Linked DNA regions of Homo sapiens: region 2 is linked to region 1. The links come from fine-mapping of genetic effects on gene expression. Tissue or cell type: prefrontal cortex. Region 1 holds a variant in brackets; the other region holds the start of a gene. All regions are shown on one strand. Distances are from middle to middle.

Evidence for each region. PIP is the estimated chance that this variant, and not a neighbour inherited with it, causes the effect.
Region 2: ASB18 starts here. The variant in region 1 is the best candidate, but not a certain one, in a credible set for the expression of ASB18 in prefrontal cortex (BrainSeq, PIP 0.63).

What each region holds. Positions count from the first base shown.
Region 1 is chr2:236,193,277-236,195,961 of GRCh38, reverse strand. It overlaps ASB18 (ankyrin repeat and SOCS box containing 18), which reads left to right. Exons shown (of 6, transcript NM_212556.4): 6 at 905-2,503. The coding sequence ends at 1,090. The region is part of intron 1 of GBX2-AS1 (GBX2 and ASB18 antisense RNA 1); the gene reads right to left. Among named protein-coding and RNA genes, the nearest start is that of GBX2, 26 kb to the right of the region's middle. The variant G/A (reference allele first, on the strand shown) is at 1,075.
Region 2 is chr2:236,263,265-236,265,949 of GRCh38, reverse strand. ASB18 (ankyrin repeat and SOCS box containing 18) reads left to right here and starts at 1,544. Exons shown (of 6, transcript NM_212556.4): 1 at 1,544-1,809. The coding sequence starts at 1,605.

The DNA of each region.
Region 1 (2,685 bases):
TAGCTCCACGTCAGGACATACTAATCCGGCCCTGTGAGTCAGCTTCATGCTCCAGCAGCTCAAGATACGACCAAGGAAGCTATGGGGATTACATCTATCCACGACAAAGTCCACAGGTGACTGTCCATTAAAAGAGAGTGAGAACAGGCCAGGTGCGGTGGCTCATGCCTGTAATCCTAGCACTTTGAGAGGCCAAGGCAGGCAGATCGCTTGAGGTCAGGAGTTCAAGACCAGACTGGCCAACATGGTGAAAGCTTGTCTTTACTGAAAATACAGAAATTACCCAAGCATGGTGGCAAGCGCCTGTAATGCCAGTTACTCAGGAGGCTAAGGCAGGAGAATCGCTTGAGCCCAGGAGGCAGAGAGTGCAATAAGCTGGGATCACGCCACTGCACTCCAGCCTGGGTGACAGAGCTAGACTCCATCTCAAAAAAAAAAAAAGAGAGTGAGAAGAGTTGTGTGTGTTTTTTCTGTTTCACTGACTTGAGTCATGTGTGCATGACTGACCACCAGACCAATGCCATGCACTCGCTCCTGAGCCCCTCCCTGGCAGAAGGGAAGAGCTGGTCATGACTTGGGGAGATGAACAGGGCCACCCCGGAGCTGTAGGGCTGCTGTGCAAAGAGGATGGAGCAAAACGGAATTCGGGGAGACCACCTGGAGCATCTGAAGTCACCCCAGTCAGAATCCCCTCTCACTCGGCAGGAACTGTGCTTTGGGAGAGCACACAAGCCCCTGGGGTAGAGGGTGGTTCCCACAAGATGGTGCGTCTCCCTCCAGTGCGCTTATCTGGGATCAGTTAGCCATAGAAAAGCCCGCTTGTACCATCAGTGGTCTGGCTAAGAAGAAAACGTATGTTGGTTCCACGTGCCCAGATTTCTAATCCACCTGCCTTCCCTTCCAGATGCACAAGCCGTTCTACCAGTCCCTCTTTGCCTTGGCCCTCACCCCACGCTGCCTGCAGCATCTTTGCCGCTGTGCTCTTCGCAGACTGTTTGGCAAAAGGTGCTTTGACCTCATCCCCCTGTTACCCTTGCCAAAGCCCCTGCAGAATTACCTACTTTTGGAGCCACA[G/A]GGTGTTTTGCACTGAAACGCAGAACGCTGCAACCAATACTGTTGTTCTCCTCGCTGACCTTCCATGGAGGCCGTGTGTTGGAGAGTGCCCTGATGCAGATGGAGGTGATGGGAGTTCCCTTCCCACTTGCTCTCCGTGGGACCGGGTGAAGCACAGACCTTGCCAAGCTTCAGGTTCACCTCGAAATGGAATTGGCAACAAAAGCCCTTTCTGCCTCTCAGGGTCGCTTGTGAAAATCCAGTGAAATCGTGACTATCACAGCACTTGGTCTGGGAAAGTACCTTTCAACAACAGTTAAGCCAAAAGGTACAGTGAGTCCTCACTTAAGGTCTTCGATAGGTTCTAGGGAACCAGCTTTAAGCTAAATGAGGTATAACAATGCCAGTTTTCCCAAGGTTAATTGATATAAACAAGAATGATGTTCCTACAGCATATTTCTGGTCACAAAAAGATCACCACACTTCTAAATAAAGACCAATACAATTCTAATAGTAAAGATTGAAATAAAGGCAAGCTACACATACCTTTAAAAGAGATTAATAACAAGTAAGATAATTATTTACCCAATTTTTGGTGAATCAGTATGTGATGGTGGTTGTCCTGCTGGTGGGTTAGATCAAGGAATAAATGTTTGCAAAACGAACCTTGTCAGGAGCACCTCCTACCACCACGAAGTTCAGAACAGTCACCAATGTGGCAGGCTTGCTAGGCCCTCTCATACCGCATCATTTATTGTCATGCATTTGGATGATTATTGTATGCCTTATGAATTTTTACTTTACAATAATTTGTATTCATTCATTCATTCATTCATTCATATTCTAATGTGCTTATTCTAGTTCAGGGTCGTGCGTGGCCAGAGTCCACCCCAGCAACTCAGTGTGCAGGGCAGGAACCAGGCCTGGACGGGGTGCTATTCCATCGCAGGGTGCTCACACACCCCCACACCCACCCACCCACACACAACACTGGGACAATTCAGACACGACAGCTCACCTCACTTGCTCAGCTTTGGGATGTGGGTGGGAACTGGAGCACCCAGAGAAAACCCATACAGACAGTGGCCTTGCCCAGGAATCAGTCTTGTTTCTTTTTTGTTTTTTTGTTTGTTTGTTTGTTTGTTTTGAGACTGGCGCAATCTTGGCTCACCGCAACCTCCGCCTCCCAGGTTCAAGCAATTCTCCTGCTTCAGCCTTCCTGGTAGCTGGGATAACAGGCATGTGCCAGCACGCCCGGCTAATTTTTTATTTTTAGTAGAGACGGGGTTTCTCCATGTTCGTCAGGCTGGTCTCAAACTCCCGATCTCAGGTGATCTGCCCGCCTCGGCCTCCCAAAGTGCTGGGATTACAGGCATGAGTCACCATGCCCTGCCGAATCAGTTTTGTTTCTTATCGGTGTTATAATAAAATGACATTAAACAAAACATTATTTAAGGACCTACTGTATATGTATTTTTCCAGTGTGTTAGCAGCCCTCATGCTGCCCCTGAGCCTTGGGACCGTCCCCTCACAGAGAGGCCTCTCACCCCGCTGGGGCCCGACCACCCGGGGAAACTCTGTACCCTAGATCACAACGGACCTGCATGTTGAGAAAGGACACTTGCAACCAAG
Region 2 (2,685 bases), 70 kb before region 1:
TCAGGAAAGCACATAACTTCCCAGACTCACCCCAGCAGCCAGAACTGGGTTGCAAGGGAGACTGGACATTGAGTGCAGGCAAAGGAGACTGGGACTGACACTACTGACCTAAATCAACATGACTCATCCCCAGGGGCTGGGCACAGTGCCCCCACCAAGAAAGCCAGGCTGTGTTGGGCAGGTGGAAGGAGAATGGATGTTGGGCAGGAACTACAGTGCCTGGCACCTCAAGTGCAGATGGAACAGAAGCTGGAAAATCACACAAATGAGCTGAAAGGAGGAAGAGGGTGTATTAGTCAGTGTTCTCCAGAGGAACAGAACCAACAGTTATGTAGGGAGAGAGAGAGAATTTCTCTTCAAGAATTGGCTCATACTATTGTGCAGACTTGGTAAATCCATCATCAGCAGGGTGGGCTGATAGGCTGGAGACCCAGGGAAGACCTGAGGTTGAGACCAAAGGCTGTCTGCCGCCAGAATTCCTTCTTGCTCAGGGAAAGTCAGTCTTTTGTTCTATTCAGACGTTCAACTGATTGATGGAGGCCCACACACATTAGGGAGAGCCATCGGCTTCACTCCAAGTCTGCCGGTTCAAGAAATTCTAATCTGATCCCAAAAACACCTTCATAGAAACATCTAGACTAGTGTTGGGCCAAGTCTCTGGGCACTGGGGTCCTAGCCAAATTGAGACATAAAATTAAGCACAGGGGAGAAGAAAGAAAGTAAGGAATGGAAAAGATGGCGAGATAGAAGGCAAGGCGAAGGAGGCCCTGTAAGCTCCACGGCCCGCCCTGGGCCCTCAGAGACCACAGCACACTTGGCATCAGCAGAGAAGCTTCAGGCACAGCTGTGCTTATGCACAGGTTGGCACACAGAGACCCAAGCACACTGAAGACACAGGTCAAGGAGAGAAAGCCCCACCTTTGCCCCTAGGAGTGCACAGAAATCCCCCTGAGGGCTCCACACTTCCACAAGTCATGGAATTATAGGCTTTGAGCAAAGTTTACCAGCCTTGAGGCATAGGGAGGTCACAGGTAATATTTAGGTTACTTTTTTTTGTTTTTCTGTGATGCTTCCGTCTTCCTGAGATCAGCCAGTCCTTCTCTGCATTTGGAAACCAAAGATTCCATTCCATTCTATGCGTTTGAGGCATGTCCAATTTGCAGGTGACCAGACGCTCCTTTTAGAGGAAGTGAAGGAACACAAGGGGTAGAATATTAGAAAATGTTCCTTTCCACAGAATAGAGGTCCAAGCCCAGTGCCAGGAAGAGGTTTTCAAAGTTTCAGGAGAGAGCCTCACTTTTGATAAAAGAAGATATTATTCAACAATACCCATGAAAGCTGTCTTTGAAAATATTGTCTCTCCTTCTTGCACCACTCACAAACATGTCTGCTGCCCCCATCTCTAGAATAATCCTTTGCTGAGGCCTCTGGAAAGATTACTTCACACCTCCCTGCTGGCAGGTGGCCCTCCGCAGGGACTGTAAGAGGAGCCAGGGTGCTGCTATTTATAGCAGCCCCCACGCCACTCTCACGGACAGCTGCTGACTTTGGAGTCGCTTTAGAGGAAGAAAAGAAGGGCTGGTCACTGCAGAAACGACGTAACAATGTCCAACTCGGATTACCTTCCCGACTACCCACTCAACTCAGATTTAGTGAAGAGATTAAAGTCTGCCCTGGATGCCAAAGATGAGGAGAGAGTGAGGGATTTAATCTGCACTGAAATCACGCCTGTGGACGCTGTGATAGAACTGGCCAATGACGACTGGATGAAAGACCCCTCGGCTCAGCTGCCCACCGGCATGCTGCTAGGTAACCAGAACGAGCCTGCTGCATCTGGGATTTAATTACTAAGTTACACTGATGGGGTGGGCAGATCCTGGAGGTAGAGGGGCAAATGTTTGGAAAAAGTAAATGATATGTACTCGGATATCTGACTCTCATACATACATGCATATATGTGTACTGCATAGACCATGTACATGCGTGTGCGACATAAGCAACAAGTGCAACACAACACAAAAAAACTAATCCTACCACAGTGGCTGCTCTGTGGCTCCATTGTTTTCCAAGCCTGTCCATTTGCGTGTGTAAATTTCACCCACTGATAACCATATCATACACATAATTGTGTGTTCTGCTCCCTTGAGATCTACAAAATCTAAATCTAAAGCATTTTCCATGTTGCTACATAGTCTTCCCAATTTCAATCCCCTACTGAAATACTTAAACCAAATGCCTACAAAAAGATAGTATTTGGTTACCTTTTTGCTTCTATAAATAATGCTGTAACGAACATCTTTATTAGGATTCATACGGCTTTTTTCTTTTTTGGGATTATATCCTTACCATAAATTCCTAGGAGCCATATAACTGGAACAAGAACATAACATTTTTTCAAATTGTATTGTTTCTAAATTGGTTCCAAATTGTTTTCCGCAAGGGTTTCTGTTCCCTCTGACAGTGAGGTGATGTGTTTCACCACAACCTCACCAAGGAGCATCACTGGTAATGAATGTTTGTATTAAATTGCCATTTGATAAGCACACACTGGTAATTCTTCACTGCCTGTCGCCCATCCTTTCTTTGCAGGTCTGGACAAAGTCTTGTCCATAGGATTTTTTCTTTGTAGGCCTCATCAGGTGCAAGACCTGTCTATTTGGGTCTTGGGCAGGAACTCTCCATCTC